Homo sapiens: one gene and its partners. The protein of the gene in region 2 purifies or fractionates together with the protein of the main gene of each other region. This does not show direct contact. Each region holds a gene or a part of one and is shown on either strand. Other genes may lie near its edges.

What was found.
Region 1: the proteins of KIFAP3 (region 2) and RUSC2 purify together in Homo sapiens (affinity purification with mass spectrometry; one large-scale study listed by BioGRID and IntAct). This does not show direct contact.
Region 3: the proteins of KIFAP3 (region 2) and ERICH5 purify together in Homo sapiens (affinity purification with mass spectrometry; 2 studies listed by BioGRID and IntAct, with this or other methods). This does not show direct contact.
Region 4: the proteins of KIFAP3 (region 2) and HMGXB4 purify together in Homo sapiens (affinity purification with mass spectrometry; one large-scale study listed by BioGRID and IntAct). This does not show direct contact.
Region 5: the proteins of KIFAP3 (region 2) and IQGAP3 purify together in Homo sapiens (affinity purification with mass spectrometry; one large-scale study listed by BioGRID and IntAct). This does not show direct contact.
Region 6: the proteins of KIFAP3 (region 2) and SON purify together in Homo sapiens (affinity purification with mass spectrometry; one large-scale study listed by BioGRID and IntAct). This does not show direct contact.
Region 7: the proteins of KIFAP3 (region 2) and CRYBG1 purify together in Homo sapiens (affinity purification with mass spectrometry; one large-scale study listed by BioGRID and IntAct). This does not show direct contact.

What each region holds. Positions count from the first base shown.
Region 1 is NC_000009.12:35,541,510-35,546,034, reverse strand, and holds part of RUSC2 (AP-4 complex accessory subunit RUSC2), read right to left. Parts: intron 1-4,525. UniProt on the Homo sapiens protein: Associates with the adapter-like complex 4 (AP-4) and may therefore play a role in vesicular trafficking of proteins at the trans-Golgi network.
Region 2 is NC_000001.11:170,067,708-170,072,232, reverse strand, and holds part of KIFAP3 (kinesin-associated protein 3), read left to right. Parts: intron 1-3,315; exon of another isoform or gene 3,316-4,525. UniProt on the Homo sapiens protein: Involved in tethering the chromosomes to the spindle pole and in chromosome movement. Binds to the tail domain of the KIF3A/KIF3B heterodimer to form a heterotrimeric KIF3 complex and may regulate the membrane binding of this complex.
Region 3 is NC_000008.11:98,062,641-98,067,700, reverse strand, and holds the start of ERICH5 (glutamate-rich protein 5), read right to left. Parts: upstream 3,134-5,060; 5' UTR 3,032-3,133; coding exon 2,974-3,031; intron 1-2,973.
Region 4 is NC_000022.11:35,284,454-35,288,978, reverse strand, and holds part of HMGXB4 (HMG domain-containing protein 4), read right to left. Parts: intron 2,983-4,525; coding exon 2,918-2,982; intron 1,633-2,917; coding exon 1,527-1,632; intron 742-1,526; coding exon 572-741; intron 1-571. UniProt on the Homo sapiens protein: Negatively regulates Wnt/beta-catenin signaling during development.
Region 5 is NC_000001.11:156,562,566-156,566,065, forward strand, and holds part of IQGAP3 (ras GTPase-activating-like protein IQGAP3), read right to left. Parts: coding exon 3,462-3,500; intron 2,868-3,461; exon of another isoform or gene 2,771-2,867; intron 2,127-2,770; coding exon 2,050-2,126; intron 1,260-2,049; coding exon 1,192-1,259; intron 1,102-1,191; coding exon 988-1,101; intron 748-987; coding exon 569-747; intron 101-568; coding exon 22-100; intron 1-21.
Region 6 is NC_000021.9:33,566,455-33,570,979, forward strand, and holds part of SON (protein SON), read left to right. Parts: intron 1-702; coding exon 703-813; intron 814-2,516; coding exon 2,517-2,633; intron 2,634-4,525. UniProt on the Homo sapiens protein: RNA-binding protein that acts as a mRNA splicing cofactor by promoting efficient splicing of transcripts that possess weak splice sites.
Region 7 is NC_000006.12:106,363,209-106,367,733, reverse strand, and holds part of CRYBG1 (beta/gamma crystallin domain-containing protein 1), read right to left. Parts: intron 1-4,525. UniProt on the Homo sapiens protein: May function as suppressor of malignant melanoma. It may exert its effects through interactions with the cytoskeleton.

The DNA of each region.
Region 1 (4,525 bases), on a different chromosome or scaffold from region 2:
TTTAAGGCTTAGACACAGCTATAGCACACAAGTTTACAGCCAAGAGGGAAAATCATGAATAATATGAACTCATAGCAATAAGCTATAATTTTGCAAGAAGCATTTTAAAATATACGGTATCATCTGACCAAGTGACTGTTATCTCTGATCCCCTTTCTCGTCCTACAAGCCCCAGAATATTTGTCCCTTTCTGATGACCGTGGGCTAAGTATCCTTACTATCCTCACTACTATACTAGAACTTCTTGAATGCAGACACTGAGTTGGGCATTAGGGTGACTGCAAGTATGACTGATGTCAACCTCTTCCTCCTCAATGGGGGTGGGGGGACCTAGTTTTATGTCTTTTGTATCATTCTAACACATCACACAAGATAAACGTGAAAGGCATAATACATTCTTAACATGCGTCTAGCTCAGGATACAGACATCCTGAAGTGCCCAAATGCTGCCCAGTTTTAGCTTAGAACCTTCACTACTGGGATCCACTAGAAAGTCTTCTCTTCCCAGTTTTACCTCTTATAGGCTAAAGCAAAGTTCTCTCTTGTTCAAGGTCTCCTGGTGCCAAGGACACAGAACCCATCCTGAGCTTCTCTGGTCTCTTGGCTGCACCGTGGCAGTGTGGCCTGCTCAAGTTCTAGTCTCCTGTGTTTCCACGTTCAGGTCGCAACAGTCTTCATTCCCTTCGACTCCTCACATGTAATGTTCCAAAATTCATTCATTTCCTTTCTCTTTTTATTCCTATCATTTCCTTTTCACTCACCCTGAGTCTAAATCCCTCATTGCCTTTCTCTTATTCATCATTTAACTGAATCCTTGACACAATCAATTTCTTAAAATTTAACTCATGTAGACCATAGGGTCATAGCTCGTCATGTGGAATGTGGTAAAGTCTGAGGCAAGTCACATATGCTCAAGGACATGAACAAACAATGCATAAAAAATATGGCTAATAAGTATACGTATAAGGGACAAGGTATTAAAATATAATTGTGTTAAATTTAAGCAGCAATTATTTACAATCTTGCTTCCTCCTCCCCTTTCTGAGAGGAAGGCAGGCTCCTCTGTTGAACTTCCAAGCCTTTGTGTGTTTAATGGGCTAATGGGTAGAGATGTAGAAGGGCAGATATTAAGAGAGTCTGAGCTACAAGATTAAGGGTTACAGAAGAAAACATAGGAGTAAATCTTTGTTATCTTGGATTAGGTGATGGTTTCTTAGATATGACACCAAAGGCACAAGTGACAAAAGAAAAAACATAAATTGGACTCCATAAGAACCAAAAACTTTTGTGCTTCAAAGGATACCACCAAGAAAGTGAAAAGACAATCCATAAAATGGGAGAAAATATTTGCAAATCATATACCTGATAAAAGACTTCTAATCAGAATATATAAAGAACTCTTACAACTCAACAATAAAAAGACATACGAGGCTGGGCACAGTGGCTCACGCCCGTAATCCTAACACTTTGGGAGGCCGAGGTGGGAGAATCATGAGGTCAGGAGACAGAGACCATCCTGGCCGACATGGTGAAATCCCATCTCTACTAAAAATATAAAAATTAGCTGGGCGTGGTAGTGCATGCCTGTAATCCCAGCTACTTGGGAGGCTGAGGCAGGAGAATCGCTTGAACTAGAGAGTCAGAGGTTGCAGTGAGCTGAGATCATGCCACAGCACTCCAGCCTGGTGACAGAGTGAGACTCTGTCTCAAAAAAAAAAAAAAAAAAAGACATATGATCCAGTTTAAGACAGGGCAAACAGTATGAATAGGCATTTCTCTGAAGAAGACATACAAGTGTCTAACCAGCACATGAAAAGATGTTCAACATCATTAGTCATTAGAGTAATAAAAATCACAATGAGATACTACTTCACTCCAGCTGGGAGGGATAAAATAAGAAATACAGACAATAACAACTAGCAAATGTTGATGATGATATGAAGAAACTGGAACCCTGAAACATTGCCGGGAGTATTGTAAAATGGTGCAGCTACTTTGGAAAAGTCTGACAGTTTATCAAAATGTTAAACATAGTGTCATCACATGACCCAGCAACTGCACTCCTGGGTATATACCCAAGAAAAATGAAAACATATGTTCACACTAAAGCTTGTACACAAATGTTCATAACAGCATTATTCACAGTAGCCAAAAAATTGGGCACAATCGAAGCCAGTCACAAAGGGCTTTTGTGATGTTGTATGATTCCATTTATATGAAATGTCCAGAATAGGCAAATCCATAGAAATAGAATGTCCTGAAATCAGGCCAGGCGTGGTGGCTCATGCCTGTAATCCCAGCACTTTGGGAGGCTGAGGCGGGCGGATCATTTGAGGTCAAGAGTTCAAGACCAGCCTGGCCAACATGGTGAAGCCCTGTCTCTACTAAAAATACAAAAATTAGCCAGGTGTTTGTCACCATTTTTGTAAATAAACATGTCTGTATGCATAGAAGAAAATCTGTAACATGCAACAAACTGTTACCAGTGCCTATCACTGTTGAATGATTTGGATTATTTTTAATTTTATTCTTTTTGCTTCAGCTGTATTTTCTAATTTGTATGTAATAAATACCCATTTTATGCATAATTTAAGCAATTTTTTTCTTTTTTTTGAGACAGGTTCTCACTCTATCACCGAGGCTGGAGTGCAGTGGTGCGATCATGGCTCACTGCAGCCTCAGCCTCTTGGACTCAAGTGATCCACCTCAGCCTCCTGAGTAGCTAGGACCACAGGTGTGTGCCACCACGCCTGGCTAATTTCTGTATTTTTTGTAGAGACATGGTTTCTCCATGTTGCCAAGGCTGGTCTTGAACTCTTGGGCTCAAGTTATCCACCTGCCTTGGCCTTCCAAAGTGCTAGGATTACAGATGTGAGCCACCATGCCGGGCCTAAACAATTTTTTTTCTTTGAGGGGGTTTCTCCTTTCATACATAACTACGTTTCCCCTGGAGTCCTGGCCATAATCCCGAGTCTGGACTAAAAGGAGCATAGAGAACTTTCTTACATAGATAGCAGTAATTTTAGGGGTACCTATGGGTTGCAGCCATCACTGACCTTCAATGAGTACCTTTTCTTCCTTTTTAAAGCATTTTCAAGAGGCATTCACAAGTATCACATAAAAGAATGTATGATTCTGCCACAAAACCATTACCAGGACATACATGCATTAATATGGAAAAACTGATGTACAGATACAGAATGCAGAAAGCTGACTCTCTAAATCAGAGATGAAGAACACATGAGCGTGGGAGATGACGGAGCCCTTGGCTGGAGGGCACTGACAATTGTATTGTAATGTGATGTTGACATATCTATCTCCCAGACTGGAGCACAGTTCTGAGGTTGGAGACTGCAATACAGTGAACTCTGTGCTTGGAACACAGTAGGTGCCTGGTTATTTGTTGACTACTTTTCCCATTAAAATAACCTGAGTTGTTAGTCTTTTTATGATTGAATTATAGGAGTTTTAACATTTATTCTGGATACAAGTCCTCTGTCAGATATATGCCTCATGAATATTTTCTCTCAGCCTGTGGCTTGTCCCTGTTTTCTTAACTGTGTTTTTTGATAAATAGTTTTTAATTTATTAAATTTAAATTGATCAATTGATCAACTGATCATAGAGTTTGTTTCTCTATGGTTAAATCTTTCTGTATCCTAAGAAATCTTTACCTGTCCTAAGACCATAAAGAAATGTACCTATGTTTTCTTCTAAAAGCTGTATAGTTGTAGCTTTTACATTTAGGTTGTATTGAATCCTACTTTAACTGTCAAGCTCTTTCACTGATTGATTTCATTTTATTTTATGCTTTTGTATCTCAGAGAAGATCTTATTCCTTTCTGATCTCCACACAACCAAGAGAAAGGCCGAGCAATGGCTCCTCCATAGACGATTCCAATTCAGCCATCTAAGGGGAAGTTCTCCAGGCATCTCATGAGATTTTGTACTCATGCTTTGCCCACCCCATTCACATTTACTTACAAGGCACTTTTTATGTATGCATATCTTACTGATCCTTACATCAACTTCCAAAGGAGGCAGAGCCATCTTCATTTTTAAAAATAAGGAATTATTTTTATATTTATAAAATTTTAAAAAATGTTATATGATATAAAAATAATTTAAAAAAATTTTATATATATAAAAATTTTAAAATAATTATACACCCAGAAAAATGAAATGACTTGCCCAAGACCACTCAGTGAATAAATAACAGAATTAAGATGAGACTCAGGAATCCTAACTTTTGATCTTTTTTCTTGGTCAGTTAAGAATATAATGAGAGTAGACCTAGCATGGGGGCTCACACCTGTAATCCCAGCACTTTGGGAGGCTGAGGCAGGTGGATCATGAGGTCAAGAGATTGAGAACATCCTGGCCAACATGGTGAAACCCTGTCTTTACTGAAAATACAAAAATTAGCTGGGTGTGGTGGCACGCTCCTGTAATCCCAGCTACTTGGGAGGCTGAGGCAGGAGAATTACTTGAACCCAGGAGGCGGAGGTTGCAGTGAGCCGAGATC
Region 2 (4,525 bases):
TAGAAAGAAATATGAGCCAAATCATATGGGACTTAAGCGCTTTAGTAAAGAGTTGAGACTTTATTTTGAGTGCATTGGTGAACTATTGAAGGATATTAAAAGTGAACAACATTTGTTCATTCATTTAATAGTTGAGATTCTACTGTGTAAAAGTCATTAAGCCAAGTGATAAAACATATTTGGTAAATGAAACATAAATATATTCCCTGCCTTCATGGCATTTACACTCTAGCAAGTAATACAGACTTTAAAATATACTGATATTTATTGTATTTATGAGTGCTATATGAAAAAAGTGTGTGGCTTTTGTGTCAAGCATTTCTCACATGGTATATCAAGGTCCATCTGTGTGGTAGCATGTATCAGTACTTCATTCCTTTATATAGCTGCATAATATTTGCTGTGGTTTGGATATAGTTCGTTTCCACCAAAGCTCATGTTAAAACTTGGTCCCCCATTGTGGCAGTGTTGGGAGCTGGAGCCTGGGAGGTGTTTCAGTTTTGGGGGTGGATCCCTCATGAATGGCTTGGTGCTGTTCTTGCTGGAGTGAGTGAATTCTTGCTCTAGTGAGACTGGATTAGCTCTCTTGGGAATGGATTAGTTCCCTCTAGAGTTGGTTGTTATAAAGCCAGGAAGACCCTTGGGTATTCTCTTTTCTCACTTCCCCTTTGATCTTGTCCACTGTGTTATAATGAAGCACAAAAGCCCTCACTGGAAGCCAGAGTCATGCCCTTGAACTTCCCAGCCTGCGGAACTGTAAGCTAAATAAACCCCTTTTCCTTATAAATTACCTAGTCTCAGGTATTGTGTTATAGCAACATAAAATTGACTAATTCAGTATTCCATTTTATGGATATACCACATTTTGTTTGTTTATTGCTCATCTGGTGGTGGACATTTGGGTTGTTTCTACCTATTGGCTATTGGGAATAAAGCTGCTGTGAACATTACTGTACAAGTTTTTGTTTGAACACTTGTTTTGTATCTTTTGGTGTATACCTAGGCCTGGAATTGCCAGACCATATGGTAATTCTATGTTTAATTCATTGAGGAACCACTAAAGTGTTTTCCCTAGTGACTGCACCATTTTACATTCCCACCAGCAATGTATAAGAATTCAGTTTTCCGTATCCTCACTAACACCTGTTATTTTCTGTTCTGTAATTATTACTATACTAGTGGATATCAAATGGTATCTTATTTTGGTATTGATTTGCCTTTCCCTAATTACTAATGACATTGAGCTTTTCATGTGCTTCTTGGCCATTTGTCTTTATTCTTTGGGAAAAGGAGTTCTTTGTAATAGAACCTTGTCAGATACATGATTTACAGATACTTTGTCCCATTCTGTGGGTTTTCTTTGCACTATCTTGGTATGTAAAACTTTCATATGCAAACATTTTTAATTTTGGTGAAGTCTAATTTATTCTTTTGTTGCTCATGCTTTTGGCATCGTTATTTAAGAAACCACTGCTAAATCCAAGGTCATGAAGGTTTGTCCCTCTGTTTTCTTCTAAGAGTTTTACAGTTTTAGCTTTTACATTTAATATCCTTGATCCATCTCGAGTTAGTTATTGTCTATGGTATATGGCAAGGGTCCATCTTCATTCTTTTATATGTGACTATCTAGTTGTTCTGACATCATTTGTCAGAACAAATGTCAGAAAAGAACAATTGACTGTTCTTTTCCTCCATGAATGGTTTGGGCAATTTTTTTGAAAATTAAATGACCAAAAATGTTGGGGTTTATTCCTGCACTCTCAATTATATTTCATTGATCTATCTGTCCGTGTGCTAGTACCTCACTGTTTTGATTACTGAAGCTTTGTAGTGAGTTTTGAAATCCAGAAGTGTGAGTCCTCCAACTTTGTTGTTCTTTTTCAAGGTTGTTTCAGCTATTTAGGGTTCCTTATATTTCCATTTGAATTTTAGGGTTGGCTTTTTCATTTCTGCAAAAAAAGCTATTGAAACTTTGGGAATATAATGAATCTATAGATCACTTTGGGGAATATTGCCATCTTAACAATATTAAGTCCTTCAGTCCATGAACATGTGATTTCTTTTCATTTAGTTCATATTAATTTCTTTCAGCAACTTTTTGTTTTCAGTATACAGTTGTTCCTTGGTTACGTTTACTCCTGAGTATTTTATTCTTTTTGATGCTATTGGAAATGAAGTTTTCTAAATTTCCTTTTCATATTTTTCAGCTCCAATATGTAGAAAAACAGTGGATTTTTTTGGTGTGTTCTGATCTATTCTCCAACTTTGCTGAATTTATTAGCTCTAGCCAGTTTTTTGTGCCATTTTTAGAATTTTCTATATATAAGATTATGTCTTCTGCAGATAGAAATAATTTTACTTCTTCTTTTTCAATCTGGATGCCTTTTTATTTTTTTTTCCCATGCCTCATTGCTCTGGCTAGAATTTCCAGTACTATGTTGAATAGAAGTCAGGAAAGTGGATAAACATTCTTGTCTTGTTCCTGATCTTAGGGGGAAAGCTTTCATTCTTTCACCATTGAGTATGATATTGGCTGTAGATTTTTCATATATGCCCTTTATTATGTTAAGGGACTTTTCTTCTATTCCTAATTTATCAAGTACTTTTATCATGAAAAGATGTTGGGTTTTGTCAGATGCTTTTTTCTGCATCGATTGAGATAATCATGTACTTTTTTTCTTCATTCCATTAATGTGGTGTATTGTATTGAAATGCCCATGTGGCCATGTTGCGTGGTCCTTTTAATATACTCCTGTATTCTGTTTGCTAGTATTTTGAGGATTTTCACATCGACATTCATAAAGGGTATTGGTCTAAAGGTTTTCCTGTAGTGTCTTTGTCTTGCTTTGGTATCAGGGTAATGGTGGCCTCATGGAATGAATTAGGAAGTGTTTCCTCTACTGTTATATCTTTTGGAAGAGTTTGAGGGGTATTTATGTTAATTTGTCTTTAAATGCTTGGTAGAATTCACCAGTGAAGCCATCTGGTACTGGACTTGTTGAAAGGTTTATGATTACTGATTCAATCACCTTACTTCTAATTCTGTTCAGATTTTCTGTGTCTTTTGAGTCAGTTTTGGTAGTTTGTGTGTTTCTAGGAATTATTCTTTTTCATGTAGGTTATCCAATTTGTTGGTGTTCATATTATTCTCTTGTAATTTTTTAATCATCAAAAGAGCAGCAGTAATGTCCCACTTTCATTTCTGATTTTAGTAATTTGAGTCTCTTCTTTTCTTTTTTAGTCAGTCTAACTAAAAGTTTTCCAAAAATGTTTGTTGATCTTTTCAAAGAACTAACCTTTGGTTTCATTTTCTCTATTCTTTTTCTAGTCTCTGTTGCTGCTTTTTATTATTTCCTTCTGCTAGCTTGGGGTTTTGTTTGCTCTTCTTTTTCTAGCCCCTTAAGGTGTAAAATTAGGTTATTAATTCAAAATCTTTTATTTATTTTTTTAAATAGAGCGTCAGTATAGAGTGTCTTATTGTGGATCTGTTTGAGTTTATCTTTGAATTTCATTGAGCTTCTTGGATGTGTAAGTTTGTCTTTGGTCTAATTTGGGAAGTTTTTGACTGTTTTTTCTCCCAGTATTCTCTATGTTTCTTTCTTCCTCTCCTTTCATACCCTCATTATGCATATGTTGGTATACTAGATGGTGTTCCATAAGTCTCTTAGGTTCTGTTTATTTTTCTTCATTCTGTTTTCTTTCTGTGCCTCAAAATGGACAGTTTCATTTGACATATCTTCAAGTTTGCTGATTCTTTTCTCTCTCTGCTCAGATCTGCTGTTAAAAACCCTGTAGTGATTTTTTTATTTCAGTTATTGTACTTTTCAGATCTAGTGTTTTTGTTTGGATCCTTATGATAATATATTTTTAAACTATTTATGTGTTGAGACATTGTGTTTCTCCTTTTTCTTAGTTATTTGCACTGGTTTCTTTTTGCTCTTTGGACATATTTAAGACAGTTGATTTAAAGTCTTTGATAAGTCCAGTGTTTGTGCTGTAGCATGGACAGTTTCTGTTAATTTTTTTTATTGTGAGAATGAGAATGAGTTTCTTGTTTCTTTGCATGTTTCATATTTTGTTTTGTTGAAAACTGGGTATTTTGAATATTATGGTATCCAAAGGAAAAAAAGAAAAGAAAAAAATACTCTTCAGATCTTTGTAGGTTGACTCAGTGTTTGGATATGGCTTCAACACTTAGCCAGGCAATTTACAATTTTACCTTAGCCTTCATTTGCTGCTTGCACAGAGCCTGAAGACCAGCCAGAGGTAAAAGCTTATGATCTTCCCAGGTTTTTTCTGGGTATGTATTCTGCCCTGAGCATGCTCATGGATTTCTAGATTTCTCTTTATATGCAATAGCTTTTCAAAGCATCTATTCCCCCAAAATGTCTGACTCCCTGGACTTTCCTCTTGGGCTTTCAGCTTGTGTTTTGTTTGACCCAGCTATTACTATTTATCCCAGGGGCCAGCAGCTTGTATGCTTGGCTTTCACTGATTTCAGTGACTGCATAGCTGCACTATCCTG
Region 3 (5,060 bases), on a different chromosome or scaffold from region 2:
GAGGTTGCAGTGAGCCGAGATCATGCCATTGCACTCCAGCCTGGGCAACAAGAGCGAAATGCCGTCTCAAAAAAAAAAAAAGATACATAGTATAATTTGTTGATTGTATTGTATTGATTTCATTGTTTTTAGATAGTGGGTGACCACACACCTAATGGGGATCCAGAGTGATCTGAGGCAAAAACAGATTTAAATCTAGTTAGCAGAAGCTGGTTTAAACATATAGTTTCTTTTTTTTTTTTTTTAATTGAGTCTCACTCTGTTGCCCAGACTGAAGTGCAATGGCTCAATCATACTTCACTGCAGCCTTGAACTCCTGGGCTCAAGCAATCCTCTCACCTCAGCCTCCTGAGTAGCTGGGACTACTGGCCTGTACCACCAAGAGTTACATTCCCTGAAATACATGTTTTAATTTTTTTACAAAAATTTTTAGATACAGGGTCTTACTATGTTTCCCAGGCTGGCCTTGAACTCCTGGCCTCAAGCAATCCTCTCATATCAGCCTCCAGAGCCATTGGGATTATAAGCATGAGCCACTGTGCCCAACAAAGCATATGAGTTCAAAGCCCAGCTCTGATTCTTAGAAGCTCTGTGACCTTGGATAAATTATTTACTCTTATCTGTAAAAACAGGACAACCATAATATTTAGTCATAACATTGTTATAAGGATTAAATGAAGTAATTCATTCAACAAATAATTACTGAGGACCTATTATATGCCAAGCGTTGTTAGGCACTGAGAGTACAGTGAATAAATGCATGTACCAGACATGTAATAAACTTGAACTGTTTTTGTCTAAAAGTATGTACACACAAGCTTGAGGTTGTATATAGGATTTAAAGAAGTTGCAAGGTGCAGAAACAGGAATGAATTATTTATCGGGCCTAAGATCATGAAGCTGAAATGTTGATGAACACAGAATAGTATCTAATTACAAGAGAGTATTGTTTGATCGAGGGTTAGAAGCAAATAGACCTGTTGATTGATTCAACGTGTGTGTTGAGCAATTTACGCCGCATATTAGGTTAATTTTCTAAGGGCTAGAACTGGCTGTCAGGCATTTTAACATCTCTTCCATAACAACACCTATGAAAACTCAGAACAGCAATGAAAGCAAGAATAAAAAATGGAAGAGTGTAACTCACGTGGAATAGTTATTAATATTGATGATAAAATATTTTTAAAGATAAAGTTATTCATTATTTTCTGAGAGGATTAAAAACTGCATTCCACCTACTGAATACTTTTGCCCCAAAGTTACATTCCCTGAAATACATGTTTTAATCAGTTTAAAACTATGTAATGGTGACTCAGTACTCTGCTTGTTAAACCAGGATGCTACTCCTAGGATAACTGAAGCACAGCATGGGGTAGAGAAGTCAGAATAATAAAATGTATCTTCCTGAAGCATCTGTTTTCCCTCGGCTTTTCATATTGAAACCCACAAAAATCTATCATAGAACAGAATGCAAAACTCTACTTAATTTCATAACATAAAACACGAAACATCGAAACATCGGAGAAACTCCTTGCTCTGTCCTCTTGTTGCAGGTATGGAAGCTCTGGGTTCTTTAGGAGAAAAGTTAGTGAGCACTGTGCATTAGAAATGAATTTTTCCATCTTTTCACATTGTTGTCAGTGAGAAGGGGTTTACTTTTATAATGCTTTTAATTTTTTGTTTACTTCCTGACTTGTCATTGCTTTCCGTTATCTATGGAAACTAGAAATAAATTCTCATACACCACAAAAATAACAGCAACACAACATATTTCTGACTAGGACACAGCGGCTGAGCTTTGAAAAGCATTCCTCACCGTCTGGTGCGCTCTACCAACAACATCAGAGGAAGACATTTCTGTTACTGCAATAACACAAGGTGCTAAGAGAAAATCTGTGAAAAGGAATTCACTCCAGTACAAAATCCCCGCTAAAGTTCGCCTTGCAGAAGACTGTAAACTAGCTTGACGGAGTTTGCTTAACCTCCATAGCATTGTCCAAAATTTTAGCCATTCAAAATCTAAGAAAAGTGAGTCGGCTGTAAAACCCTGTCATTCTCTAATTCATGTAACTGCGTTTATACTTTTCACAGTACTTATCACTGTCAGAAACGATCTTAGCCAATTGTTTCACGTGTTTCTTTTCTGTCTCTTCTATCTTCAATCTCTACAAACAGGGTCACTTGTATCTCCAGCATCTAGCCAAGCACTGGGGTATTATATAGCAGATGCTCAAAATGTCCTTGTTGAGTTTCTTCAGCAAGAGTCAGTGATGACCACTTTTGATCACACATACTTCTCAACTGATACTTAAGCCGAAGATAGGGGAAAGTGTGTCTGACCTATTCAGAGTGCAGGGACCCATTTGATGGAGTGAATGCTCCTCTGGATTCTCCGCATCTTTTGCCATCTTTGATGCTGAAACGCTAATGGGAGGGTAAATGGGGAAAAGTCTTTTTTGTTGGTGTTTTAGTAGAGACGGGGGAGCGGAAGATCTCGCTTTGTTACCCAGGTTTTTCTCGAACTTCTGGTCTCAAGAGATCGTCCCGCCTCAGCCTCCCAAAGTGCTGAGATTGCAGTCGTCAGCCACCGCCCCCAGCCTTGGTAGAAGGCCTTGATAGGACATTTCTCCTGTGTTTAAGGCAATGCCGAGGCTAACCGCCTTAGGGCCTCAACACCAACTCCCCGAGATCCCATCAGCGGACAGGGTGAATCCAGCGCCCGGCCTCGGGCCCCGCGCGTCTCGCAGCGAGCGCCGCGGAGCGCACCAGGGCCGCCGCACCCGCGGTCACAGCAGCGCCGCTCCAGATTTGGAAGGAAATCGCGCTTTGTCCCGGGTTCTGCTCGCATCCTCCGGGACAAGGCCCGGCTCCTGCCAGGCGGGGTGGCCACGGGACACACCCTTTGGACCTCCTGGGGAGTTAGCCCACCCGAGTCCCCAGCCCGGGCGCGGGCGGCGCCGGTACCCTGCTCACCGCTGGGGAACCTGCTGCTGTCGCCGGCCTTGTTGAGGGCGCTGCTGGAGCAGCCCATTGCGGGGAGCGCAGACACCTGTCTCAGCCCTGCGCGGGTGTCGGCCCGGAACCGGGAACCGAAGGCAACTGCACCCGTAGCCGCGGAAGTTTCTCCAGCTCTGCAGCCCGGCTCCCTTGGGCGTAGAGCGCAAGCGCGCAGCGGGGCTAATGGTAGGGGGTGCGCACCTGGAGGAGGAAGGGAGCTGGCAGGAGGTGGAAGGAGCCTGGGAGCGCAAAGCGGAAGAGAGCGGGAGGGCCAGGACGCAGAGGAGGGCAGGGAGGAGTAGAGCCCAGGAGACAGGAGGGGAGACGGTGGAGGGTATGGCACAGTAAGAGAGGAAAAGCCCCTAAAGCAGGGATAGGGAGGATGTCAGGGGGCGAGGGCGAAGCGCTGGGAGGTATCATCTGACTCATCACTAAATAGCCAGGGAGGCGAGGCGGCCTTGGGACTAGGGGCTATTGATTGGTAGACTAGATGTGCGATGACAGTCTTATTTTCTTACATAACTACAATTACCACAAGGAAGTTTAACTTTGATACAGTACGATTTAATCCACCCTCCATGTTCCCTTTTTGCCAATTGTCCAATCCAGGACTGCACGTTGCATTTAGTTGTGTCTCTCTTTAGTTTGCTTTAATCTGAAGTAGTTCCTCCAGTCTTGCTTTGTCGTTATGACTTTGACATTTATTAAGAGAATAGATTTTTTTTTTTTTTTGAAACCGAGTCTCTCTCTGTTGCCCAGGCTGGAGTGTAGTGGCGCAATCTCGGCTCACTGCAACCTCTGCCTCCCGGGTTCAAGCGATTCTCCAGCCTCAGCCTCCAGAGCAGCTGGGATTACAGGCGCCTGCCACCGTGCCCAGCTAATTTTTGTAATTTTAGTAGAGACGGGGTTTCACCATATTGGTCAGGCTGGTTTCGAACTCCTGACCTCAGGTGATCCACCCGCTTCGGCCTCTCAAAGTGCTGGGATTACAGGCATGAGCCACTGCGCTCGGCCTTTTTTTTTTTTTTTTTTTTTCCGGAGATGGAGTCTCACTGTGTCACCAAGACTGGAGTGTAGTGGCGAGATCTCAGCTCACTGCAACCTCCACCTCCCTGGTTCAAGAAACTCTCCCTGCTTCAGCCTCCTGAGTAGCTGGAATTACAGGCATGCGCCACCACGTCTGGCTATTTTTTGTATTTTTTAGTAGAGACGGCGTTTCACCATGTTGGCCAGGCTGGTCTTGAACTCCTGATCGCAGGTGATCCGCCCGCGTGGGACTCCCAAAGTGCTGGGATTACACATGTCAGCCACCGCACCCGGTGAGAACAGGCTTTTTTTTTTTTTAATTTGAGACACGGTTTCATTCTTGTTGCCCAGGCTGGAGTGCAATGGCACAATCTCAGCTCACCACAACTTTCGCCTCCTGGGTTCAAGCAATTCTCCTGCCTAAGCCTCCTGAGTAGCTGGGATTACATGCATGCGCCACCACACCCTGCTAATCTTGTATTTTTAGTAGAGATGGGGTTTCTTCATGTTGGTAAGGCTGGTCTCGAACTCCCGACCTCAGGTGATCCGCCTGCGTCAGCCTCCCAAAGTGCTGGGATTACAGGCATGAGCCATCGCGCCTGGCCAGGCCTTTTTTTAGAGAGAAAGAGGCTGGGCGCGGTGGCTCATGCCTGTAATTCCAGCACTTTGAGAGGCTGAGGCAGGAGAATCTCTTGAACCCGGGAGGTGCAGTTTTCAGTGAGCCAAGCCTGCCCTCCAGCCTGGGTGACAGAGCAAGATTCCATCCAAAAAAAATTTTTTTATAGAGACAGGAGTCTTGCCATGTTGCCCAGGCTGGTCTTGAACTCCTTACCTCAGGGGATCCTCTTCCCTTTGCCTCCCCAAAGTGCTGGGATTACAGGCATGAGACAGTGTGCCTGTGATTTTCTAATTACATTATTCCTTCTATATTGATTAGCTGCCATTCTACTACAAAGTAAGGAAGTGCTTTTCCTTCCCCCCATTTATTCACTTACATCAGTGAGCACTCATGAAGTCTCACACTATCCAATGTAGTA
Region 4 (4,525 bases), on a different chromosome or scaffold from region 2:
TAGTAGAGACAGGGTTTCACCATATTGGCCAGGCTGGTCTTGAACTCCTGACCTCGTGATCCGCCTGCCTCAGCCTCCCAAAGTGCTGGGATTACAGGCATAAGCCACCACGCCCGGCCCCATTTTTATTTCTTTTAAATTTTTTGAATATATGTATTTTTTGAGATGGAGTCTCACTGTGTTGACCAGGCTAGTCTCGAACTCTTGGCCTTAAGCGATTCTCCCAGGTGGGCCTCCCAAATTAGCATTACAGGCGTGAGCCACTGCGCCCAGCCTCCACTGCATTTTAAAAAAATAAAAATAAGTTACAGGGTACTCCAATTTCTTTTTGTGCCATTGTTTCAATAGGATATCATTAGTGAAACTTTGAGAGCTAACAGGTAGACTGAATATCTCTATAGATATTTCTGTTATTATCATTATATCTTCTATGTTACGCCATCCTGAGAACCTGGCATAATTTAGCATAAAGTAGATGCTCAATACATGTATGTAAAATGAGTGAATGAATCAAAATTATATGGGAAACTATATGGGAAACTGTAGTCATGCTGCTGATAGTTGTATTCACCTCAGTTTCCTGCAGACGGTGTCCAATGAGGCTTAGGGACTCTCCCAACAGCTGAAGATGAGCAGCAACATCAATGGGCTCTGTCTCAGGGGCTTTGGCTGGTGAGGCTGGTAACAGCATGGTGGTGGGTGGGGACTTCTTCTGGGGTGACAGTACTCCTACAGAAGAGGCTGAGAACAGAGCAATGAGGCAGACAGGTAAAACTTGCCTACAGCCTTGAACAACACAAAGTTGTTCTTCCTGATTTTCCCTTTTTATGAATTATACCAGGCATTAGCAAAACTGTGGCCTGTGGGCTAAATTCAGTCTATGGTCTCTTGTTTTTTATGGCCTGTGAGTTAGGAATAGTTTTACATTCTTAAAGGGCTATAGAAAAACAAAGAATATGTGACAGAGAATGCGAGAATGCATACGGCACACAAGGCCTATAATATTTACTCTCTGGACCTTTTTTTTTTTGAGATGGAGTTTTGCTCTTGTTGCCCAGGCTGGAGTGCCATGGCACGATCTCGGCTCACCGCAACCTCCACCTCCCGGGTTCAAGCAATTCTCCTGCCTCAGCCTCTCTGGTAGCTGGGATTACAGGTATGCGCCACCACGCCCGGCTAATTTTGTATTTTCAGTAGAGACGGGGTTTCTCCATGTTGGTTAGGCTGGTGTCGAACTCCTGACCTCAGGTGATCCGCCCACCTTGGCCTCCCAAAGTGCTAGGATTACAGGCATGAGCCACTGCGCCTGGTCTACTCTCTGGACCTTTAAAGAAAAAGTTTGCTGACTTCTGATTTGCATTTTCTAAATTTGAACATCTCTTTTTGGTAGCTTGTAACATTCCCAGGTAATAATACCTGGGAATCAAGGTCCACTTCTAATACTGCAAGCTTTTTTCCCAGTTTCTTAGCAAGGAAGCAAAATTCACATGCTTTAGAGAAAAGCAGGGGCGGGATGTGGTCACTACCTTTGACTTTCATGGAACCTTCTGAGCTGGATGCTTTCCTTTTCACAGTTGTGGCTTCTGCTTTGTTCTGTTTGTGCTGCAGATACTGAGCTTTTTGCTTCCAAATCTGCAATCACATCAGTGAACATTAAATTAAATTAAGAAGGACAAAATGTAAAAGGAAAAGCAGTCATGAAAGAACAAAATGGAGAAAAGAAAGGCAATAGTAAGAGGCGGGCAGACAGAGGGTTAATGCTAACTTTTAAGCTGGGGGTCACCGAACTGACTTCAGACAGCTGACTACATTAATATCTTAGTAAAGGACTATAAACATTCCTCAATGCTAATGGTCAAATCTCGGCACTGATTTTTAGATCACTCTAAGTTGAAATGTAAAATCACAGATTAAACCTCTGGCTCAATATAATGTCTATGTGGTTCTACTAACCTGCTAGTTGGCAATACCAACACAATAGCAGAATAACAATAACAAGGAAAACAAAAACTAAGGATAATCTGGGTGAAGAATGGCTGTTCATCTAGATGACATCTTGCTCCTATATGACCTTCATATCATAAGTCTCAATGATTCAGATATGACTTTTTTTTTTTTTTTTTTTTTGAGATGGAGTTTTGTTCTTGTTGCCCAAAGCTGGAGTGCAATGGTGTGATCTTGGCTCACTGCAACCTCCGCCTCCGGGGTTCAAGTGATTCTCCTGCCTCAGCCTCGCGAGTAGCTGGGATTACGGGCATGCGCCACCATGCCTGGCTAATTTTTTGTATTTTTAGTAGAAATGGGGTTTCACCATGTTAGCCAGGCTTGTCTCGAACTCCTGACCTCAGGTGATCCACCGCCTCAGCCTCCCAAAGTGCTGGAACTACAGGCGTGAGCCACCGTGCCCAGCCCAGATATGACTGTTTATCAGTGTCTTACTACCTTCTTGATAGTAGAGTACATTATTTGGTAATGGTTGATGAGGATGATGACCTTGAACCTGGTTACCTAGTAATCACATTCTCATATTTTTATTGTTTGCAGTGACTGCTAAGTGGATAACTTTCCTCAGTTCTCAGACCATGACTGATTACTAGGTGTTTGCAGTAAAGGGCTCTGATTTTAGACTTTCTTTTAACACTTTAATTACTCCTCAACTTAGGTCATCTTTTGGCTCAAATGTAACACTGCTGGAAAAAACAGACCAGGTTAGAAAAGACAGCCTTGCTATAGCTAAATCCTCATGTACAGTGAACTGGCACTAACAGTGTTAATGTCCTCTGCTAAACCATTTTCTGTTGATTTGTAATTTTCTTCACTATTTTCAGTGCTGTCTGGCTGGCTAGTCTATGGAAGAATTACATATTTTGGAAGGCGAGAAGCACTGAAAAATATGTTTGTAAGAAAATGTACTTACCAGTTTGTCTTTTTCTGGTAATTGCTTCCACACCTCAGCCAGTTTTTTACTAAGTTCCCCAAAATCTGGCATAAAAGAGTAAAACACTCAATACAGTAAAGGGTTAGCTATTAACAAAATAGAAGATTGGTGAAAGCAAAAACTGGAAAAGGGTTTTGAAGCTCATATTTAAATGTTGCAAGATGCTTTCAGAAAACCAACCCCAATCCCATCACTCTTCTTTGATTTTTTTCTATAGGGAAGGGGATGTTTTGATGGTCAGGAGACAGTCTCAACTCGTAACCCATCTACTCCCTAGGGATTTATTCCTTAAGCATCTTTCTGGTGTCTTTTTTTGAGACTGAGTCTGGCTCTGTTGCTCAGGCTGGATTGCAGTGGTGTGATCATGGCTCACAGCAGCCTCAACCACCTGGGCTCAAACCACCCTCTCACCTCTGCCTCCCAAGTAGCGGGACCACAGGCGTGGGCTACCATGCCTAGCTAATTTTTTAAAATTTTTTTCTTTTTTCTTTTTTTTGAGACGGAGTCTCGCTCTGTCGCCCAGGCTGGAGTGAAGTGGCGTGATCTCAACTCACTGCAACCTCTGCCTCCTAGGTTCAAGTGATTCTCCTGCCTCAGCCTCCGGAGTAGCTGGGATCACAGGCGTGCACCACAATGCTTGGCTAATTTTTGTATTTTTAGTAGAGACGGGGTTTCACCATGTTGGCCAGGCTGGTCTCGAACTCCTGACCTCAGGTGATCCACCCACCTCGGCCTCCCAAAGTGTTGGGATTACAGGCGTGAGCCACCACGCCCAGCTATTTTTTAAAATTATTATTTGTAGAGATGAGGTCTCGTTATGTTGCCCAAGCTGCTCTCAAACTCCTGGGCTCCAGCAATTCTCCTGCTTCAGCCTCCCAAAGTGCTGAGATTATAGGCATGAGCCACTGCATCCTGCCTCTGGTGTCTTTAATTTGATCCCACAATACAAGGCCTATCAACTTAGGTTAAAAAATATGTGTAGAATTTGAAAAAAGATGTTAGGTTTTTACCAAATTTCTGAATGATTAGAACCAAAGAAGGATTTCCCTAGAGCAGCTCAGAAGCAATCCTCTAGATGTGTAATCTTACCCTTCCATTGTATAAGAGTTTTATGCTTTATAAAGCATATTCATGTGTGCCTAACACTGCAGTCTTTTGGAGTTGGTAGGGCAGCGATTTTACACATTAGGCAAATGAAATTTGTAGCGGTTAAGTGACATGTGTCCAGGATCTCTGGTATAGTGTTTTTCTTACCTCATTAACTTCTAATACAGAGACAAATACAGTCCCTGACTTATGATGGTTTGACTTTTGATTTTTCAACTTTATAAGGATGCAAAAGCAATATGCACTCAGTAAAAACTGTACTTCTAGTACCCATACAGCCATTCTGTTTTTCACTTTCAGTACAGTATTCAATACATTACATAAGATATTCAACACTTTATTATAAAACAGGCTTTGTGTTAAATGACTTTGCCCAAGTGTATGCAAATGTAAGTGTCTTGAGCACATTTAAGGTGGGCTCAGCTAAGCTGTGATGTTCTGTAGGCTAGGTGTATTAAATGCATTTTTGACTTACAGTAT
Region 5 (3,500 bases), about 14 Mb from region 2:
CTCCTGCTCGAGGTCTCTTACCGTTGACATGGTTGATATTGCCCTGGATTTCAGCCTGAGTTAGGTAGTGGTCATAGATGTCCTGGCTTTCTCTGTCATCCTGCAAAAACTCCATTGAAAGGGAACCTGGGAAACCCAATTTAATCTCCTTGTCCTGCTCTTCCCTGCCTGGCTACACTTATTTCTTCTTCTGGGGACCTTCCCAAGGCCAAAGTTCAGTCTGCTCAGAATTCAGGAATTGTGGGGTCTAAAACACTTGGCACTGACATAATTAAGCCAAACCAACCTTTGGAACCTCCAGTCCAATCTCATTCTGTTCTACATTCCAGCACCCCTCTCAGGCTTCCCTGAAGATCATCCCCCAAGAACCTCTTCTCCAGTCTTCTCTTCGGAATTCTCATCATTCTTCCAAGTTCCTTTCCTATTTCTCTAAAATCACTGATAAATTATGGTTTCTCTAAGAAGCAATTTTGGATACTAGAGACATGACAGATAGGAGTCCCGGTTTCACTTGAGACTTTCCAGCCACTCAACTTTTCGGTCCCTGCAACCCAAGACTACTCCTTACATGGTTCCTGGCATTGGCTGCCTTCTCCATCTTGGCCTGGGCCAGCATCTCTTGGTAGACGGCTGCCAGAGGCTCTCGGAGATTCTCCAGAAGAGCACTGGGATTCTGCAAGGCAGCCAGGGTGTCCTCCACCACCCCTCGCTCCACTGCTTCATTGATGGCAAGAACAGCTGCATGGACTGGGAGAGGGCATGGAAACAAGGTCAGGAGGCCAGAGTGAATCCCAGATTGGAGCGCAACCAGTAGCAGCCCACTCTAATGTCATCCTTTTTCCCACCCTCAAGGGCCAGACAAACCAGGTAGCCTGATGGCCCTATCTGTGGATGAGAGCTGGCCAGAACCCATCCAATGGCTGTGAGGCTTGGAGCCCTCCCATACGCATTGAGCCTACTCCTGGCAGGGCAGAGCCTAGTCCTTACCTGCAGCCTCATCCACCGAGAGCTCATTGGCCAAGATGCCCCCGATCTTGCTGAAGGCAGGCAGCTGGAGGCCATATTTGGCCAGTTCGGACGCCATGTTGCTGAGTTCCTCAGCTGCAATGATGCCACAGGTGCCCTTCATCAGGCCCAGAACCCCCAAGACCCTGCCCAGGCTGTGGTGGTCAGGGAAGGAGCTGGGCTTACCTGTGAATTTCACTTTCCCGTATAGATCATGTATCTGAGGGGCCAATCCCAGCCGGAAGAGGAAGAGACTAGGAAAAAACGGAAGGCATTGGAAGGCACTGGGGCCTATTCATTTTGACACTCTGCCCACGATGGGTTTGAAGGGGATACTATGGGGACCTAGAGATGAAGACCACTCAGCACCTGCCCTCAAGTCATCCCCAACCCACATAAAGAAATATGACCATAAATCAGCCCAAGGAAAGTGCTGCAGAAGGTAAATAAGATGGTGTTGGGGGTCTGAGGGGATTAGGAAGGCTTCACAGAGAAGGCCACATTGCAGTAGCAGGTCACTCAATGGAGAGAGAGGACAGGAAGGGCGCAGCAAGCAGATACCTGCTGAGCTAAGGCACAGGGGCACAAAGGGACATGGGAAGTGGTCAGAAAGAGATGGCATGGTAAACACAAGGAACCGGTCGGTCACTTGCTGTGATTTAGCCAACTGGTTGCTGATGGCTGGCTGTAAGTAGGACCAAAGAGCCTACACCATCCATACTAAGTGTCTTGCCTGTGTTGCTCTCAATAGGTCCTGTTCTGATTCCTTTATACCCAGTTACAAACTGAAGGCCCTACCCTGCTACTTTCCTATCTCTGGTACCCTGCCTGCCCTTCCCCTTCACCCACACAGGCCATACATAAATGTGCCCACAGACATGCACAAAAATCTAAACACAACTCTGTAAATCTGAAACCTCACTCTCCTGAGCAGTGCTCCCTGTGGTCTACCCTTCATCCTTCTTTCTTGCTGAGTTTGTTGTTGTTGATTGTTGGTCGCATCCACCTAGAGGAACCTGGATGATAAAATTTGAGGTCTCTCACCTGAGAGCATGGATGCAGTAGACTACCCGGGGCATGTTCTTTTTGTCATAGATGTCCGTGGTCTCTGGGAAGAAGGTCTAGAGGAGAAACCAGCCAGTTACTGCCATTGGGAACCTTTAAGCACCACCAAATGCGGAGAGGGGGTGCCGAGGAATGGGTCTTCCTCTCCAACCTGAGGTGTGTGTTCCCTTGTTACCTGGGGTGTCTAGGTCAGTCTCCCCCAACCATTTCTAGTCAGCCTAGTATAAAAGAAATTCACTGAGGATGCATACTAAGCCAAGGCTCAGCCACAGACACATAGTCCTAGGGTGCCCTGGATTAACCAAACACCAGATAAGGCCATCAAGGCTACAGGATATAAGCCATATCCTCCAAAAACAATAACAGCAACAACAACAAAAAACCAGGCCCCCAGTTGTCTTCCAGATGTCTATAGTGAGCCTGCATGCCTCACCTTAGACCCTTGCCAGAGATGTGGTATGCTGGAGAGCTGGCCTACTCCCATGCAGGGCCCAATGAAGCATATATTGCCAAGGACCACAAAAGTGTCAGGCTGTTATCCCTGTCTCCAAGCCAGCGGCTTCTGATCAATGAGAGCCCTTCTAAGAACCGAGTGGCACCAGGTATGGCTTCTCAATGCCACCTGACAACTGTAATGAGGCCTAACCTCAATATATCTTGGTTATATTTAGATTCACAATAAAAGACCAAATTTAGAGACCTAGAGTGTTCCAGTCCCACTGAAGACACATGACCTCTATTGCTTCTGCCTCCCATCGAAGTGTCTTTACTGCTGTTTCCTGTCTTATAGTGCCTTTCTACAGGGAAGAAAAACAAAGCAGAAAGAAACCATACATTGTAGAATCCTATCATGCCTTCATTTGTATAGCTCTTCACAGTTCACAAAGGGAGTTCACACAGACCATGTGATCTTCCTGACAACACTGTAAGGTAGACAGGGCAGGGCTCACTATCCCCATTTTACAGATGAGTAACAAATTGAGGTTCAAAGAGTGAAATCATGTGTCCAGTTGGGGTTTTGGACCTAGGCTTCTAACTCAAAGTCTGCCACCTAGGGATGTGTATACCCTTGCTTCACACTGTGAAATTTGGTGGAGACAAGGCTGGCCAATACGAGCATGACATAGCAGCCTCCCACCCCCTGCATAATGGGAACCGTGCCACTCAGGCCAGGGAAACTTCACCTCCTTTCATCCACAGGGAAGAGGAGGCAGAGAAAAAAATAACCTGGTTCAAAGACACACAGCTGCAAGGAACTGTTCTCTTAGATTAAGTTAGTTTAGAAGACACATGGAAATAGGGCTAAAGGGTCCAGGGAGATAAAGCATGGGATTGTGGGAGGTGGCTGGTAAGGAGTAAAGATGAATACCAATCTTCAGGCCCAGTATTACCGAAGGCAGACCGATGTGGGCTATTGCAGATAGCCAAAA
Region 6 (4,525 bases), on a different chromosome or scaffold from region 2:
ATATGAGCTTTGAAAAGAAACAAAAGTGTTTCAGTTGATGTTATGGACTTCCACAGAAATATTGTAATTATAAATAGTGTAATATACTTAATATAAGTAATAAGTGTGTATAAACTGAAAACATGGTTCATTTATTTATATCCTGAATATATTGTTTAAAGAAATTGGGTTCTTAAGACCAAAGTGTCCACAACTGGAAGATGTTAAAGATACGCTGATGAGTAAAGGAGTGATCATAGTGGTTTTCTGCTTGCTTGTTCAGTAATTTTGCTTACTGCTCTTGAAGGTTATGCTAATGAGTAAAATGAAAACTGCTAAGGAATGTAATAACCTTACCACAGTTCAAAAAATTTGCAGTTTACTATAAATGGCTTTCAATCATGAAGAGTAGCGAGTTTTAAGTTCTTAATGGAACTTTCTATGATTATAGTTTGATATATATATATAATAGAAAATTGACTAAATTCAGTCAGATTTTGGGTTCAGTTCTGCGACCTGTGTGATACTTTGTAATTTATCTTAATCCTCTTCTGTTTTCCAAGATTACTTTCTCTTTCTGAGTCTTCTCCCTGTTTTCCAAGATTATTAGTATTATAAGACTATTATTTTGTTTTTGATATGTAGCAACTAAAGATATGAGTACTTTTCAGAATTTAGGGGACTATGGTAATTTGAGATAATTATCTCTGTTTTCTTTCTTAGCCTGTGGACATCTCTACAGCAATGAGTGAACGGGCACTTGCTCAGAAAAGACTCAGTGAGAATGCATTTGATCTTGAAGCCATGAGCATGTTAAATAGAGCTCAGGAAAGGGTATGTAGCAGTTTTTTAAAAAAAATTATTATTTACCATCAGCCAACTCACACCAATGTACCAGTTTTAATGTCTAAATAAGAATTTTGCTAACTAGATGGTTGAGTTGTAACATCCTTTACCTTATTTTCAATGTCTTATTTTAAATGAAAGTGATTCGAGGCCTGATCATTTATTCAATAAATGTTTATTGTTTACTATGTGGCAGGAACTGTTTCTTGAGAGAACAAAATAGAAAAATTTCCCTGTCCTCACAGAGTTTACAATCTGGTGTATAAAAACAACTAAGTGCCTACAACCCTATGAAATGTGTAGGTATTAATAGTTGCCATATTTCAGCCGAGAAAACTGAAGTAAAGGGTGGTTAAGGCCAGGCATGGTCGCTGATGCCTGTAATCCCAGCACTTTGGGAGGCCGAGGTGGGGGCAAGGAGTCAGGAGTTCAAGACCAGCCTGGCCAAGGTGATGAAACCCCATCTCTACTAAAAATACAAAAATTAGCTGGGTTTGGTGTTGCATGCCTGTAATGCCAGCTACTCAGGAGGCTGAGGCAGGAGAAATGCTTGAACCTGGGAGGCAGAGGTTGCAGTGAGCCAGGATCGCGCCACTGTACTCCAGCCTGGGCAACAGAGTGAGACTGTCTAAAAAAAACAAAAGAGTGATTAAGTGATATCCATAGTCACACAACTAATTAGTGGGGGAACTGGGATTCAAACCCAAGCAATCTGAATCTGGAGTCTGTGCTTTTAACAATGGACAGCCTCTCCATTTCATTTCTACTGTTTTATGGTAAATCAGTAAGTACATGTTCAGACAGGAAATACATTGCTGACAGTGCAAGGTGTTTAGTAAATCTAATTTGTGTGAATGACAGCTGATCTTTATCACAACAAATGTTGGTGACTGAAAAAAAGTATACAAGCTTCTTTAAAAAGTTGTTTTACGGCCGGGTGCAGTGGCTCACGCCTGTTATCCCAGCACTTTGAAAGGCCGAGGCGGGCGGATCAGTTGAGGTCAGGAGTTCAAGACCAGCCTGACTAACATGGAGAAACCCTGTCTCGACTAAAAATACAAAATTAGCCGGGCGCGGTGGCGCATGTTTGTAATCAATCCCAGCTACTCTGGAGGCTGAGGCAGGAGAATCGCTTGAACTCGGGAGGAGGAGGTTGCAGTGAGCAGACATCGCACCATTGCACTCCAGCCTGGGCAACAAGAGAGAAACTCCATCTCAAAAAAAAATAGTCGTTTATGTATTCAAGTGGACAGTTTCCTACATTTAAACTCTTTAAACCTGTGTCATGAATTTAGTCTGTATAAATGTCTCAAAGGAAGTAATTAAGAATCCAGGCTGTCATGACATGTATTACAATACATTTGTATGAGATAGGAAGGGAGGGTGGGGACCCATTGTCATATGAGCTCTTTTTTGCATTTTTAGTGTATCTGTGTGATAGTTTGAAGAATATTAACAGCTGTATTTTTTAGTAGCTGTGCTTTTAGATACATTTCAAAATCTTATTAATGGGATTCACTAAATGTTGTCAAACTGCTTCTTTAGAAAGTTTAGGCAAACATTTAATGTTAAATATGTTTTAAAAGTTAAATATTTAAGTCTGCTTTTCAGCCATTTTTAGTGAATTATTACCAGTGATGTTTTAATCAGGTAATTTTACTTAGTTAACTGAGACTACTTCTTTTCTTCAGATTGATGCCTGGGCTCAGCTGAACTCTATTCCTGGCCAGTTCACAGGAAGTACAGGAGTACAGGTTTTGACACAAGAACAGTTGGCCAATACTGGTGCCCAAGCCTGGATTAAAAAGGTACACAGTATATGCACATATGAAAGTGTCGAACAAAAAGTTTAAATTTTTTGGAAACTGTTTATTAAAACTGCATGAAAAGACCAGTGACTCTAACCAAAGTTCCAAGTAAATTTGCTATGTGTATATGCTCCAGGGCGGACACTGAAGACGGACTGGATTCATGAGAAAATGGCAAATGTATAAATGTGGCTCAAGAGCCACTAACTTATAAGGTTATTTTAAAAATTGTTACTGCTGCTTTTGAAGGGGTGATTTAACTTTATTTTGAACGCTAATAGTGTATCAGGTGCTGTTCAGAATATTCCACAGTTCCTGCTGGACTACTAACCTAATCATTTCAAAGCAGTGGTTCTCAAATTTTTCTTCATCATGGGATACTTTATTACAGGTTTATTTTTAGTGGATCACTGCCCCCAAGAGCCCTCTACCACCTTAATTTTCCATTCCTCTATTCCTTTGCCCTCGCACCCCACCCGCTTCATTAGTGCCTGTGCCTTCTTGTAAGATCTCTTGGCCCCCGTTCCTCACTCCTCTTGTGACCTGTAGCCCCAGGACCTTTTGGTTGTCAGCTGCTGGTTACAGCAAGTGGTTGGGAGGCCCTAGTATTAGCTCTGCATGTGGTGATCTTGCCATGGGACTGGAAGCCTGAGGGAGGATGGCTGGAGTGGGGTGGGCTGTGGTGAAGGGGATGGGATGGAGATTAATCTGTGGACCACCATTTAGGCCCTAGTGGCCTCTGGTGATCCACAGGCTCAATTTGAGAACCACTAATTTCATGACAAAACAGATATGTAAGACCTAAAATCAAGGGAGAGAATGGACGCCTCGTGCTACGAAGATGTAGGTGCATCTGGTTTCAGATTCTGCAGTGAGACCTGTGAACTCCACCTACGGCTGCCTCATCATTGGGGGAGTCTTAGGTGGCTAAGAAGGGCATTCTGAAGAAACGCGTTGTGGTGAAGGGACAAAGCTTGGTTGGATGGGTGATGGGAAATTTGTTACAGGAGTACTGGCAGCATAGCAGTGCTGAAACTGGGAGGCCGCGTGGTCTAATGGATTGGGAAGGTTTCTTTATCCTGTTGTACTCCTGACTCCTTGTGTAATCATGGGCAAGTAACTCTTTGGAATTTCAAAGTCTCTGAGGTGTCTAGTGGTAATCAGTAACGTGATGGTTACCTATAGAGAGTTGCTATGAGTGCCAGTGAATGAGCTGAATTTCTGAAAAATGAGACATTGGTTGCTTTGTGTATTTTAATCTTGTAACATTTATTTCAATTTTGATAGCTTTATCTTTGTTGATCTTACTAACAAATTAATATGAAACATCATGTATACTCATTATGCCTGCCTTTTTTTGGGAAGTAGTTGCACTGATGTGTATAGTGAGTACACAGTTAGATTCATTAAGAAATTACAATTTCTGCAGTTTGCTGAGGGTTGGTGTTAGAATAAAGGGTGAAAATGTATATAGCAAAATATTTTAAAGATTGGATTAATCTTGGACTTCTATATTATAGTTACTATGAAAGTGATTTATATAATATTTGAAAAAATGTCTTTCATCTTTGGAAGAACTATAAATGTACATCTATTTCTTTAGTTTTAATTCTTTAATACTATTTAGTCTTGAAGCTAAGTACTCAGCCAGTATTTCAGGAAGTTAGAAATAAAGCTTATGGGTGTTAAAATAGGCACATAATACAGAGTCATGTACACTGCTAGGTAGAAACTTCTGAATGTGCTTCCATTACAAAATTTTGGTCTTTATCTAATGATGTGCTGATCCATAATGTTTGTATACTTATAAATGTGTTAATAACTTAAATAACTTTTAAAAAGTGAATCTTTTACTGACTCAATTGGTTTTCCCCTAAAATAATTTCTTCTGG
Region 7 (4,525 bases), on a different chromosome or scaffold from region 2:
TCTCAGCATCCCAAAGTGCTGGGATTACAGGCATGAGCCACCATGCTGACCTAAAAATAAGATTTATAATCAAAAGCCATACATTCTGGCAAAACTATTAATGAAAAAGGGAGTATATATGTATTTGATTTTTTTTTTTTTTTTTTTTTAGACAGAGTCTGGCTCTGTTGCCAGGCTGGAGTACGGTGGCACAATCTTGGCTCACTGCAACCTCTGACTCCCTGGTTCAAGTGATTCTCCTGCCTCAACCTCCCAAGTAGACGGGATTACAGGCGTATGCCACCACGCCCAGCTAATCTTTGTATTTTTAGTAGAGACGGGGTTTCACCATGTTGACCAGGATGGTCTGGATCTCCTGACCTTGTGATCCGCCCACTTTGGCCTCCCAAAGTGCTGGGATTACAGGTGTGAGCCACCACACCTGGCCCAATATTTTTTTAAAAAAGAGCTAAAGAAGAAAAAAGAAGTGAACTCAAGTTTCGAAGGTCTTACTAAAGGTCCCCAAAAGGGTTTATGTCACTGCCACTTGATTATGGAGAGTAGATTGTGATGGAAAGTGTGGAAATAGAGGGGGGATAAAGTAATTCAATGACAGAGATAAGTGGCAAATGATTATCGTATGCTAAACTCAGACTCCAAAATCCCTTTGGGAAAAACTCCTGTAATGTCAAGTAGAAAGTTTAGCCTTGGCTTCCTCAGTGAGATATATTAAGACTTTTAAGGCACTGAGAGCGCATGAAGGGTCTCCCTTTTAGAGACCAACATGAACATCCAAATACTCAAAGGTACTTCAAAGCTTAACAGACCTGGTTACGACTTCTGGGCCTCTGAAGTTTTTACTCCACTCACAAAGTAACAATGTATGTATTAATACTACTACCATTACTATAAAGACAACAATAATTACAACTATCACTGCCAGTATTGCCCCTGCTACTGACCACCACCTTTCCTCTATCCAGCACTTGCTTTGAGCCAAGCCCTGTGCTGGGTGCTTTACATAGATAACATCCAATCCTCCTACAGCTCCATAAGAGAAGTGTAATTGCCTCCATTTTACAGGTGAAGAAACTGAGACTTAAAGAGGTTAAAAATCTATCCCAATGGCAGAGGCAGATTTGAAACTAAGTCTGCCCAACACCAAAGTCTACTATCCTTTGACTGTGGCATGCTTTCAGAGGTACTATTTACTGAGTTTCTGTTATCTGCCAGGTACTAGGCTAGTCATTTTTAAAAAATATATATTTATAACTCTCAAAAACAATGTTAAGAGATAGGTCACAGATCATACAACAGAAGTTATCGGGGTAAACTAACTTCCCAAGAAGCTCACAGCTAGTGGCAGACTTACTTTTAAATTACTGGTTTATCACTGGTGAAATAAAATAAACCTAAAAATTAAAACTCTTTCCTTTAGTATAAGGAAAATAAGAGGGAAAACTCAGTACTAACCAGTTTAAATCTAACATTACATAAAACAAAAATAGACTTACCTGGCTATGTTCTTTATGCTAGAAAATAATTAAACCTGTTTAGAGTTCTAAGCACCAAACCAGCCACAAAAGACTGGAAACTAGAATCAATTTTAAGTTACGAAGACTAACACTCTACAGTTCCAGAATGCTTTCAAATAACATTTTAAATGATTGTTCTTTTTCTGAAGAAAAAAGAAAAACGCTCCAGATAACAATAGTTTATCCTTACAACATTCTAGTGATATAAACAGGGAGTTAGTTGTTTTCTCTTTATAGAAGGGAAAGGTCCACTGAGTACAGAAAAACTAAGGGATTGTCTATAGTTCTGAAACTTGAGCCTGCTGGCCTTCACTCAGAGGTAGATCTCTGCCTGCCCAATGAGGATGCTCTGCCCTTGACACTGGCTACACTTTTCCTCCAACTGAAACAAGGCGAGCTGATTTTCACAGGATTATGAGACCCATCTACTGCTTGAATTTGGCTCTCCTGCAGGGAGCATTAATGCTTGTTTCTAGATGTGGAGTTCAATTCAGTTCAATGGTGATAATTTTTAATTCACTGCTTTTTTTAAAAAAAAATACAGGTTCTTAAACAAAGAACTCAATGGAAATAATTCACTGCTTTTGACCTTTAGCTAAGGACCCACTTCTAATCAAAATAACAAAAAGTATGGCCACATGTGGTGGCTCACACCCGTAATCCTAGCACTTGGGAGGCCAAGGCGGGAGGACTGCTTGAGCCTAGGAGTTTGAGACCAGCCTGGGCAACATAGTGAGACCCTGTCTCTATTTATGTTTTTTTTTTTTTGGTTTTGTTTCGTTTTGCTTTTTTTGAGACAGAGTCTCACTCTGTCACCCAGTCTGGGGTGCAATGGCACGATCTCAGATCACTGCAACCTCCACCTCCCAGGTTCAAGTGATTTTCCTGCATCAGCCTCCCAAGTAGCTATGATTACAGGCGTCCGCCACCACCCCTGGCTAATTTTTTGTATTTTTACATACATGGTTTCACCATGTTGGCCAGGCTGGTCTTGAACTCCTGACCTCAGGTGATCCACCCGCCTCCACCTCCTAAAGTGCTGGGATTACAGGTGTGGGCCACCACATGCAGCCTTTTTATGTTTTAATATTTTTACTATTTTTAATATTTAAAAAAACCAAAATAACACAAAGTGGCTTGAATAGATAAAAAGAAAGTACCACTTTCATTATATAGCAGAAAAACACACAAAATTCCTACTCCAAAGGAGGCATAAGCAAGAAACTAGTAAGAAAAAGAGAAACAACTCCCATTGGTTGAGCACATACTATGTGCCAACCACTGTTCTGAGCACTTGAAATGCATTAACTCGTTTATTTTTATAACAACTCTTATGATTCCCATTTTGTGAATGAGAAAATTGTGGCACAAAAATGTTAATAACTTTCCTAGGATGATAGGATTCAGTGTCATGGTAAGTATTAACAGAAGAACAAGAATTTAAATCCAAGTAGAGAATCCACATTCTGAGCACATTATTCACAAGACAGAGTATAATTTAAAATGTGGTAAATGACAGTGCCACTAGTGGCTGCTAAGTGGCCTGGCCACAGCTCGCCATGCTCATTCCACCACACCACTAGACCCTCTAATGGCAAGAGAATTATGGACTAGACAGGGGATGGGGCTGACTCAGGAGGGCAGCAACTCTATCTTTGTGAAAAATAACATCATATGACCATGTTTACCAAAACCAAGCTGAAAAAAAACTTTAAGAGTAAATTTTGGAAAGAGAAGTAGCCAAGTTCAAATTATTTCATATAAAGAAATAATTGATTAGAATGTCTATACCAAAAGCCACAAATATTTGCAGAATACGAAAATCTGACTTTAATAAACTTTAAATCATCTTTGGACTGGCAAGCTTTTCTTTCTTTTTTTTTTTATTTTTTGAGATGGAGTTTCACTCTTGTTGCCCAGGCTAGAGTGCGATGGCATGATCTTGGCTCACCACAACCTTCATCTCCTGGGTTCAAGGGATTCTCCTGTCTCAGCCTCCTGAGTAGCTGGGATTACAGGTGTGAGCCACCATGCCCAGCTAATTTTTTTGTACTTTTAGTAAAGATGAGGTTTCACTATGTTGGCCAAGCTGGTCTCAAACTCCTGACCTCAGGTGATCCACCTGCTTTGGCCTCCCAAAGTACTGGGATTAGAGGCGTGAGTGACCGCACCCGGCTGGACTGGTAAACTTTTCTAGGAAAAGATCTTCCTAGAGTTGGTTTTCCCCTATCCAAACCTATCTTTTCCATTTCTTCCATTAGACCTTTGCTTTGATGATGATGATGATGATGATGATGACCAGGATGCTTTTGCATTTACTGAGTTTCTACTTTGTGCTCAGAAGTGTGTTAAGGTTTTTGCACTTAATAACATAAACTTTCATTTAATATTCATGACAACCCTACAGAGTCAGCATCCTATTGTCTCCATATTACAGATGAGGAAATTGAGATTTTAAGAGGTGAAATAACTTGCCCAAGGTCACAAAGCTAGTAGATAAATTCATTTTTTTCTGACCTAAACACCCATAATATTAATCAAATAAGCAAATATGGGTGGCTACCTGACTGTCCCCTCCTTATTTAGAGACAAAAACCACAGTGAGTGCTGCACATTCCAGCCAAATTCCATCACTTCCAAGTCCTGGACAGAAATGAAGGGATATGGTCAGGAGGCTTAAGAGAGCCACACTGGGCAAACTGGCTTGAAATCTAAGGGTGCTTTTGCCACTCTCTTTAAACCAGAAAGAAGTACACTCTCTTAGAAGTAAATGAAATATTTATAAAGATGATCTAACTAGAAAAACATCCCAAAGACAGACTAGTACGTTTAGTTTTTCAGAACATTTATTAATACGAAGTTCATCACGGTTCTGAAGGAAAAAATGAAGTGTTTCAAGACTGCACTAAAATATAAAAAAACTCAAGGAGAGAAGCAAATCTCCTATTTTAATTTTTTTTTTTTTTTTTTTTTTTTGAGACGGAGTTTCGCTCTGTCGCCCAGGCTGGAGT